3 linked regions of the Homo sapiens genome follow. The protein of the gene in region 1 binds, or shares a complex with, the protein of each later gene. Each region holds a gene or a part of one and is shown in the gene's direction. Other genes may lie near its edges. The genes, in order: EIF3I, EIF3K and EIF3J.

What was found.
Region 2: EIF3I (region 1) and EIF3K share a complex: the UniProt entries of both Homo sapiens proteins name them as parts of the eukaryotic translation initiation factor 3 (eIF-3) complex.
Region 3: EIF3I (region 1) and EIF3J share a complex: the UniProt entries of both Homo sapiens proteins name them as parts of the eukaryotic translation initiation factor 3 (eIF-3) complex.

The regions. Positions count from the first base shown.
Region 1 is NC_000001.11:32,228,611-32,232,110, forward strand, and holds the end of EIF3I (eukaryotic translation initiation factor 3 subunit I), read left to right. Parts: intron 1-116; coding exon 117-206; intron 207-524; coding exon 525-598; intron 599-2,316; coding exon 2,317-2,409; intron 2,410-2,504; coding exon 2,505-2,586; 3' UTR 2,587-2,994; downstream 2,995-3,500. UniProt on the Homo sapiens protein: Component of the eukaryotic translation initiation factor 3 (eIF-3) complex, which is required for several steps in the initiation of protein synthesis.
Region 2 is NC_000019.10:38,622,079-38,625,729, forward strand, and holds part of EIF3K (eukaryotic translation initiation factor 3 subunit K), read left to right. Parts: intron 1-1,998; coding exon 1,999-2,119; intron 2,120-3,651. UniProt on the Homo sapiens protein: Component of the eukaryotic translation initiation factor 3 (eIF-3) complex, which is required for several steps in the initiation of protein synthesis.
Region 3 is NC_000015.10:44,547,147-44,550,797, forward strand, and holds part of EIF3J (eukaryotic translation initiation factor 3 subunit J), read left to right. Parts: intron 1-3,651. UniProt on the Homo sapiens protein: Component of the eukaryotic translation initiation factor 3 (eIF-3) complex, which is required for several steps in the initiation of protein synthesis.

The DNA.
Region 1 (3,500 bases):
TGAGCCTGGGCAGCGGTCTGGCAGGGCTGCTCCCTCCCTCCGGCTGCACAGCTCACCCTGCCCGACTTCCCCCAGGAAAGCTCTTTACAGATTTCCCCCCTGCCTTCTCTCTCCAGCTTTTTGACTCCACAACTCTTGAACATCAGAAGACTTTCCGGACAGAACGTCCTGTCAACTCAGCTGCCCTCTCCCCCAACTATGACCATGTAAGAGAACCCCACCTGCCTTCCTGCTGAAGCCTCAGGAAGCTTCCAAGTTCTAGATGCTTGTCCAGAAGTTGGGCTACAACATTGTGGGGGAAATGATGTCAGGCAGAGAGGAGATGCCCAGAGGAGTGACAAAGCTGGAAGGATTGAATAGCCCCAGGGCAGCCAGCAGGAGGTGGCAGAAGTGTCTGATCATCCCCTACCTTTGGTATCCTCCCATTGAGCCGTGTGAGATGTTAAAAATGTATATGGCAGCAGAAAAACACAAAATGGACTTGGTGTCCATTGGTCCCATCTAGAGTTTCTTCTTCCATTCAGGTGGTCCTGGGCGGTGGTCAGGAAGCCATGGATGTAACCACAACCTCCACCAGGATTGGCAAGTTTGAGGCCAGGTAAAGAAGAAGAGAGCTCTTCCAAATTAAAATCTCATGTGGTGTACCTTTTTTGTTTGTTTTTGTTTTTGAGATGGAGTCTCGCTCTGTCGCCTAGGCTGGAGCGCAGTGGCGTGATCTCTGCTCACTGCAAGCTCTGCCTCCCGGGTTGACGCCATTCTCCTGCCTCAGCGGCCCAGGCGCCCACCACCATGCCTGGCTAATTTTCTTTTTGTATTTTTAGTAGAGACGGGGTTTCACCGTGTTAGCAAGGATGGTCTCGATCTCCTGACCTCGTGATACGCCCGCCTCAGCCTCCCAAAGTGCTGGGATTACAGGCATGAGCCACCGTGCCCAGCCTTTTTTTTTTTTTTTTTTTTTGACACGGAGTCTTGCTCTGTCACCCAGGCTGGAGTGCAATGGCGCGATCTCTGCTCACTGCAACCTCTGCTTCCCGGGTTCAAGCAATTATCCTGCCTCTGCCTCCTGGGTGGCTGGGATTACAGGCACCCATGACCACGCCTGGCTAATTTTTGTATTTTTAGTAGAGACAGGATTTCACCATGTTTGCCAGGCTGGTCTTGAACTCCTGGCCTTAAGTAATCCGCCCACCTTGGCCTTCCAGAGTGCTGGGATTACAGGCATGAGCCACTGTGCCCAGCCTTCATTATATTTCTCTATGTCTAAATTTCCTCTACTGTATAATGAGACAATGACAATATACTTAACATAAAATTATGCAGATTAAATTATTCAGTTAATATTTATTAAGCTCTTTAAGCACTGCCCAGCACATAGTAGGCACTCTATAAGTATTAGTTATGTATTCAGGCAGACATCTGGGTCCAGTCTTCCCCATATAATAAAAAAGTTAAAAAAGTAAGAGACAGGGTCTCACTATGTTGCCCAGGCTGGCCTCGAACTCCTGGGCTCAAGCAATCCTCTGTCCTCAGCCTCCCAAAGTGCTGGGATTACAGGCGTGAACCATGGCACGCAGCCACCAATTTCCATCTTATTTTGTTCACATTCACTTCTTATCTCAATTTTTCTGCTTTATTATTATTATTTTTTGAGACAGGGTCTCACTCTGTTGCCCAGGCTGGAGTGCAGTGGCACCATCTCTGCTCACCGCAACCTCCTGGGCTCAAGCGATCCTTCTACCTCAGCTTCTGAGTAGCTGGGATTACAGGTACATGGCCACCGTCCCTGGCTGCTTTTTGTATTTTTAGTAGAGATGTTGGCCAGGCTGGTCTCAAACTCCTGGCCTCAAGTGATCCACCCGCCTCGGCCTCCCAAAGTGTTGGGATTACAGGCGTGAGCCACTGCGCCTCGGCTTCTGCTTTATTTTTTGTGATACAATTTGCATTTGAGGCCAGGTGTGGTGGCTCATGCCTGTAATCCCAGCACATTGGGAGGCTAAGGAAGGCGGCTTGAGGCCAGGAGTTCGTAACCAGCCTGGCCAACATGGTGAAACCCCATCTCTACTAAAAATACAAAAATTAGCCAGGCATCTGTAATCCCAACCACTCAGGAGGCTGAGGCAGGAGAATTGCTTGAACCCAGGAGGGGGAGGTTCCAGTGAACCGAGATTGCGCCACTGTACTCCACCCTGGGTGACAGAGTAAGACTCCATCTCAAAATAAATAAATAATAATAACAATTTGCATTTGGGGAGTGCCACCTCCAAAGTGTTTTGGAAGAAGATAGAAAGTGAATTAATTGTGTCCCTTTTCCTCCAGGTTCTTCCATTTGGCCTTTGAAGAAGAGTTTGGAAGAGTCAAGGGTCACTTTGGACCTATCAACAGTGTTGCCTTCCATCCTGATGGCAAGAGGTAGGGTACCAGTGAAGCAGCTGACCTAAGCCTGGGTTGGGTCTCTGCCTTTCCCAGAGTAAGCACCTGACTGGTGCCTGGCTATCTTTTTCCAGCTACAGCAGCGGCGGCGAAGATGGTTACGTCCGTATCCATTACTTCGACCCACAGTACTTCGAATTTGAGTTTGAGGCTTAAGAAGCTGGATCTCCTGCCGGGCGTGGTGGCTCATGCCTGTAATCCCACCACTTTTTTTTTAAGGCAGGCGGATCACCTGAGGTCAGGAGTTTAAGACCAGCCTGACCAACATGGAGAAACCTCGTCTCTACTAAAAATACAAAAATTAGCCAGGCATGGTGGCACACGCCTATAGTCCCAGCTACTCAGGAGGCTGAGGCAGGAGAATCACTTGAACCCAGGAGGCAGAGGTTGCAGTGAGCTGAGATCACGTCATTGCACTCCATCCTGAGCCACAAGAGCAAAACTCCGTCTCAAAAAAAAAAAAGAAGAAGGTGGATCTCCAACCAGGCCAGAGAAGATTCTCACAGAAGGTTTTGAACTCTAAGAAATAAATTGGTTTGGTAATAAATGGCTTCTGGTCAGATATTTTGTGGTGTCTGTTTCATCATTTTTCCTTTTCACTGACACCCCAGCAAGCTGATGCTGATCATGGAGACTTTTATTATTGAGACCTCCCTATACTTTGGACACTTCAAACTTAAGACCCTCAGTACTTTTGGCTAACCTGGGTTGCAGGCACCCTCATCCAAGGTGTAAAGGTCCTAAGGGGCCTGCAGAGGTTTCAGGAACATCTCAGCTGCTATCCAAGGAGCCAGTGCTTAGAATAGGGGCTCGGCTGAAGCAGTTGGCTGAGAGGCTTCTGTCTTCTCCCTTCCTGTCACTATTTGCCACACTCTTCCCCCATGCAGCTTCTGCAGGCTCAGGTGAGCAGGTCCAGCGCAGAAACAGGCCTGAGGAGGAGGAAGACAGGTCAGGACGCTGAGCAGAGGGGTAATACCCAGGGGAGAAGGTGTGGAGCTCACCTTGCCACAGCCGCAGGCTCTGGGGCTCCACAGATGGCCAAGGGATTGAGGAGGTAGAGTGGGTTCTGG
Region 2 (3,651 bases), on another chromosome or scaffold:
TTGGGTGCTTTCTTTCTTTCCTTTTTTTTTTTTTTTTGAGACAGGGTCTCACCTTCTTGCCCAGGCTAGAGTGCCTTGGCGTGATCTCATGATCTCAACTCAGTGCATCCTTTGCCTCCCAGGTTCATGTAATCCTCCTGCCTCGGCCTCCTAAGTAGCTGTACGTATCGGGGGGCCTGCCCCGATAATCACGTAGGTTCTTTTCTATATTCCTAAGCATTGGCTGGCTTGAGAAATAGAAGGACAGAGTACAAAAGAGAGAAATTTTAAAGCTGGGCGTCCGGGGGAGACATCACACATTGGTAGGATCCGTGATGCCTCACAAGCCACAAAAACCAGCAAGTTTTTATTAGGGATTTTCAAAAGGGGAGGGAGTGTGCGAATAGGTGTGGGCGACAGACATCAAGTACTTAACAGGGTAATAGAATATCACAAGGCAAGTGGAGGCAGGGCGAGATCACAGGACCACAGGATCAAAGCGAAATTAAAATTGCTAATGAAGTTTTGGGCACCACTGTCATTGATAACATCTTATCAGGAGACAGGGTTTTGAGATCAACCGGTCTGACCAAAATTTATTAGGCGGGAATTTCCTCTTCCTAATAAGCCTGGGAACGCTATGGGAGACGAGTTTATTTCACCTCTGCAATCTCGACTATAAGAGACAGGTACGCCCCGGGGGGCCCGTTCAGAGACCTACCCCTAGGTGCGCATTCTCTTTCTCAGGGACGTTCCATGCTGAGAAAAAGAATTCAGCGATATTTCTCCCATTTGCTTTTGAAAGAAGAGAAATATGGCTCTGTTCTGCCCGGCTCACCGGCAGTCAGAGTTTAAGGTTCTCTCTCTCATTCCCGGAACAATTGCTGTTATCCTGTTCTTTTTCCAGGGTGCCCACATTTCATATTGCTCAAACACACATGTTGTGCAATTTTTGTAGTTAACGCAATTATTACAGGGTCCTGGAACGATATACATCCTCCTCAACTGACAGGATTAAGAGATTAAAGTAAAGACAGGCATAGGAAATCACAAGGGTATTGATTGGGGAAGTGATAAGTGTCCATGAAATCTTTACAATTTATGTTTAGAGATTGCAGTAAAGACAGGCATAAGAAATTACAAAAGTATTAATTTGGGGAACTAATAAATGTCCATAAAATCTTCACAATCCACGTTCTTCTGTCATGGCTTCAGCCGGTCCCTCCGTTTGGGGTCCCTGACTTCCCGCAACAGGTACGCACCACCATACCCAGCTAATTTTTGTATTTTTAGTAGAGACAGGGTTTTGCCATGTTAGCCAGGCTGGTCTCGAACTCCTGACCTCAGGTGATCCACCCGCCTTGGCCTCCCAAAGTGCTGGGATTACAGGCGTGAGCCACTGCACCCAGCCTAATTTTTGTATTTTTAGTAGAGACGGGGCTTTGTCATGTTGGCCAGGCTGGTCTCGAACTCCTGATCTCAGGTGATCCGCCCATCTCGGCCTCCCAAAGTGCTGGGATTACAGGCTTGAGCCACCCACCTACCCACCCCCACCGCCACCTTCTGTTGTCCTCTTTTGCAAGGGAGGAAACCGTCAGCCCCTCAGTTTCCTTTCTCTGCTCCTCAGCCTTTCAGTGCCTCTTAATCTCTCTCTTCTCTGCTCCTCGTGTCATAAATAAGCAGTCCAAGGTCACTCAGCAGGGAAGTTTAAACCGAGGCAGTCTGGCTCTGGTTCCTTAGCCACTACTCCAGACCACTGCTGCTGTTCTCATTTGTTTATAAATCACTTAGCAGTGTCTGCCCCATTGGGTAGTTGTGAGCATTAACTGTCCCTGTTCACAGAGGAGAAAGGTAGGCTCAGGGAGGTGAAGGTTACACAGCTGGGAAGCACTGGGACTGGGATTGGAACCCAGGCATGTCCAATTCCCAAACTCCAGAATAAAGCAGCTGCCTGGCACCTGGTGAGGATTGGGGACTTGGAGGTGCCACTGTGGCCACGTCTCTTGTTCTTTTTCTTAGGTACCAGTTCAACCCAGCCTTCTTTCAGACCACGGTCACCGCCCAGATCCTGCTGAAGGCCCTCACCAACTTGCCGCACACAGACTTCACCCTGTGCAAGTGCATGATCGACCAGGCACATGTATCCTTCCAGCACTGGGGCCGGGGGGTGTGTGGGAAGGGGTCAGAGTCAAGGTGCATGAATTCCCAGGGAGATGGTCTGTGGGTGTATCCACAAACAACAAGTGCCTGCTCTGGTCCAGCGTGGCAAGGTGCTGGACAGTGCTGGGACACTGGTGACTGAGACAGTCCTGGGCCCTGTCTTCACAAAGTTGTCGCAGTCCAGTGAAGAGTCAGTGATAGACTGGAGTGGTCAGGGTTGGGTTACAAGAGTCACAGCAGCCGGGCACAATGACTCAGGCCTCTAATCCCGGCACTTTGAGAGGTCAAGGTGGGTGGATCACCTGAGGTCAGGAGTTCGAGACCAGCCTGGCCAACATGGCGAAACCCCATCTCTATTAAAATACAAAAAATTAGCCAGGCACAGTGGCACACACCTATAGTCCCAGTTACTCAGGAGGCTGAGGCAGGAGGATCACTTGAAGCTGGGAGATGGAGGTTGCAGTGAGCCGAGATTGCGCCACTGCACTCCACCCTGGGTGACACAGTGAGACTCTGTCTCAAAAAAAAAAAGAAGAGCCAGAGTAGGCACCTGACCATTTGGGTGGGGGAATATGTGGACATGAACACAGCCATCTGTATTTACATTCTATAGAACAATGTCTGGAAAGGTGGAAAGGTACCCAAGAATTGGAAATGACTGTTACCTCCCAGGAAGGATGGCTGTGAGACAGGGAAGGGAAGACCTATTTTGCCACTGTTCACTCTTCTGTATTTTTAACTAGAAACTATAAACCAGGGCCTCCTGGAGGAGGGAACATCTAAAACATAACGAGTTAGGTGGAGGGGTAGGCAAAGGTGATCCAGGCAGAGAGGACACTCATGGGCTAAAGGAAGCAGAGCTCGGTGCTGTCTTTCAGGAATGGTAGAGGAAGCCTGACATAGGAATGATTTAAGGTGGGTTTTTTTTTGTTGTTGTTTTATTTTATTTATTTTATTTTTTTTTTGAGACGGAGCCTTGCTCTGTCACCCAGTCTGGAGTGCAGTGGCGTGATCTCGGCTTCCTGCAACTTCCACCTCCCAGGTTCAAGCTATTCTGTCTCAGCCTCCTGAGCAGCTGGGACCACAGGTGCATGCATGCTACCACGCCCAGCTAATTTTTGTATTTTTAGTAGAGACGGGGTTTTGCTATGTTGGCCAGGCTGCTCTCGAACTCCTGACCTCAGGTGATCCACCCGCCTCAGCCTCCCAAAGTGATAGGATTACAGATGTGAGCCACCGTGCCCAGCCTATAGGTTTTATTTTATTAGTAATAATAGTAGGGTTTTTTTGTTAATATTTTCTTTTTTTTTGAGATGGAGTCTTGCTCTGTCATCCAGGCTGGCGTGCAAAGGCGTGATCTTGGCTCACTACAACCTCCTCCTCCCGGGTTCAAGTGATTCTCCTGCCTCAGCCTCCCAAGTAGCTGGGACTATAGGCACGTGCCACCACACCCAGCTGCTTTTCGTATGTTTAGTAGAGATGGGGTTTCGCTATGTTGGCCAGGCTGGTGTC
Region 3 (3,651 bases), on another chromosome or scaffold:
TGACTTTTTTTTGTGAGACGGAGTTTCATTCTTGTTGCCCAGGCTGGAGTGCAATGGCGCGATCTCGGCTCACCACAGCCTCTGTCTCCTGGGTTCAAGCAATTTTCCTGCCTCAGCCTCCCGAGTAGCTGGGATTACAGGCATGTGCCACCACACCCAGCTAATTTTGTATTTTTAGTAGAGACGGGGTTTCTCCATGTTGGTCAGGCTGGTCTTGCATTCCCGACCTCAGGTGATCTGCCTGCCTTGGCCTCCCAAAGTGTTGGGATTACAGGCGTAAGCCGGCCTTGATTCTTTTTTTTTTTTTTTTTTTTTTTTGAGACGAAGTCTCGCCGCACTGTCACCTGGGCTGGAGTGCAGTGGCACAATCTTGGCTCACTGCAACCTCCCACTCCTGGGTTCAAGTGATTCTCCTGCCTCAGCCCCCAAGTAGTTGGGATTATAGGTGTCTGCCACCACGCCCAGCTAATTTTTTGTATTTTTAGTAGAGACAGGGTTTCACTATGTTGGCCAGGCTGGTCTCAAACTCCTGACCTCGTGATCCGCCCACCTCAGCCTCCCAAAGTGCTGGGATTACAGGCATGAGCCACGCACCCGGCCTGACTCCTTTTTAATAGTGGGCTTTAGAATTATATAGACTTAATTCATTAACCAGGCTTATGTTGTATGGAATACTACTTGAAATAAATGAGCTATTGGCCAGAGTATAGGATGCTTTTTACATTTGGGGGGAAGTAAGAACTATAAAGTTCTCTCAGTTTTTATTTATTAATAACTGAATCACTTTCAGAGAGGCTATTGATTTCAGCTAGGTTGTCCTAACTGCTAATGGAGAAGCTTTCTTATGAAGTTAGATAAGTTGATATGAGGGTTCATATGGAAAAACAAAACATGCAAGAAAGGCCAAGAAAACACTAAAAAATCTGAAAACCTACAAGGAAGGACTAGCTCTAGCTGACATTAAAGTAAAGCCTCTGTAATTAAAACAGTACCGGCTGGGCATGGTGGCTCACGCCTGCAATCCCAGCACTTTGGGAGGCTGAGGATCACCTGATGTCAGGAGTTCGAGACCAGCCTGGTCAACATGGAGAAACCCCGTCTCTACTAAAAATACAAAAATTAGCCCGGCATGATGGTGGACACCTGTAATCCCAGCTACTCCAGAGGCTGAGGCTGGAGAGTCACTTGAACCCAGGAGGCAGAGGTTGCAGTAAGCTGAGATCGCGCCATTGCACTCCAACCTGGGCGACAAGAGTGAAACTCCGTCTCAAAAAACAAGACCAAAAAAACCCAGTATGGTACCGTTATATGGAGAGACAGTAGACTAGTGGGATAGGATCAAAAGCCCAGAAATAGACCAAGTACATATGAAAATTTAGTATATGGTAAGTCACAAGGTATCTTAAAATGTTTTTTGCTGCAATAGAATGCAATAGACTGGGTATTGTATAAACAACAGATTTATTTCTTATGGTTATGGAGGCTGAGAAGTCCAGTATCAAGGTGCTGGCATCTGGCGAGGGCCTTCTTGCTCTATTATCCTGGGGCAGAAGGGCAAAAGAGCACAAAGGATTGCAGGAGGTGTCAGAACTCATCCTTTTATCAGATATCTACTCCTAATATAAAGGTATTAATAATTCATTCATGAGGGCTTTGCCTCTAATCATTTCTAAAAGACCCTACTTCTCAACACTGTTGGATTGGAGATTTCATCACATGAACTTTGGAGGACACATTCAAACCATAGCCCAGGGAAAAAAACCATTATTTATTAAAGGGTTTTTAATAAATGATGCTGTGACAACTGGGTAGCCATTTGGGAAAAAAATGAAATTAGATCCATGTTGCATATCATAACACAAGAAAAAAACTCCAAATCAGAGATCTAAATAAAAAAAAAAATGAAACCCTATACATTCTAGAAGAAATTGTGGGTGAATTCTTAGGTGTAAGAAAAGACTTTCTGGCTGGGCGAAGTGGCTCATGCCTGTACTCCCAGCACTTCGGGAGGCTGAGGTGGGCGGATCACCTGAGGTTGGGAGTTCGAGATCAGCCTGACCAACATGGACAAACCCCATCTCTACTAAAAATACAAAGTTAGCCAGGCATGGTGGTGCATGTCTAATCCCAGCTGCTTGGGAGGCTGAGGCAGGAGAATTGCTTGAACCCGGGAGGTGGAGGTTGTAGTGAGCCTAGATCATGCCATTGCACTCCAGCTTGGGCAACCAGAGCAAAACTCCAACTCAAAAACAAAACAAAACAAAACAAAACAACAAAAAAACAAGAAAAGACTTTCTAATTGACTTGAAATCCATCCAGAGGCAATGAAAGAAAAGACTGGGGCTAGGCACGGTGGCTCACGCCTGTAATTCCAGCACTTCGGGAAGCCGAGGCGGGCGGATCATGAGATCAGGAGTTCGAGACCAGTGTGACCAACATGGTGAAATCCTGTCTATACTAAAAATACAAAATTAGCCAGGCATGGTGGCATGTGCTGGTAATCCCAGCTACTCGGGAGGCTGAGGCAGGAGAATCACTTGAACCTGGGAGGCAGAGGTTGCAGTGAGCTGAGATCGTCCCTGTATTCCAGCCTGGGCGACAGAACGAGACTCCGTCTCAAAAAAAAAAAAAAAAAAAAAAAAAACCATTTCTACTAAAAATAAATGAGCCAGGCATGGTGGTGTATGCCTGTAATCCTAGTTACTGGGGAGGCTGAGGCAGGAGAATCGCTTGAACCTAGGAGGTGGAGGTTGCAGTGAGCTGAGATCGTGACATTGCACTCCAGCCTGGGCAAGAAACTCCGTCTCAAAAAAAAAAAAAAAGTCTGGTAAATTTTATTGCATAAATTTGTTGGGATGCATAGCAATTCATGGGGAAACAATAGAGGCATTTCCATCAAGAAAGCAAGGATGCCCATTACTTCTGCTGCTGTTCAACATTGCACTAGAGGTTTAGCTGGCCCAATTAGGTAAATCACTTGTGAGGGCCTAAGGATTGGTAGAGAAGTAAAGCTATCTTTTGTTTGCAGATAAGGTAGCATACCTGTAAAACCCTAGAGAAGCAACGATAAATCTAACTTAAGTGATAAATGAATTCAGTAAGGTAGCAGGATATTAACATATAAAAAAGCCAATAGTCATTTTTGTTTATTTGTTTTGAGACAGGGTTTTTATGATAGTGAGTTGCCTAGGATAGAGTGCAGTGGCACTATCATAGCTCACTGCAGCCTTAACCTCCTGGGCTCAAGTGATCTTCCCACCTTAGCCTCTCAAGTAGCTGAGACTACAGGCACATGCCACGTTGCCCAGTTAATTTTTTAATTTTTTTTTTTTTTGCAGAGACTGGGTCTTGCCGATAGGTTTTTATACACAAATAATAGCCACCTAGAGGACATAATAGGAAAACACCCTATTTATAATAGCAACATACAAGATGAAATACTTAGGAATAAATCTAAAGAGAAATGCGCAGAGCCTCTAATAGGGAAATCACTTTAAAACACTTCTGAAAGGTACAAAAATGTACTTGATCAAATGGAAAGACAGTTCTTATTCTTGGTTAGGGCAGCTCAGCATTATAAGATGTCAATTCCCCCTACATTAATTTATAAATTTAATGCAGTACAAAAAAATACCAACAAACATTTCTCTG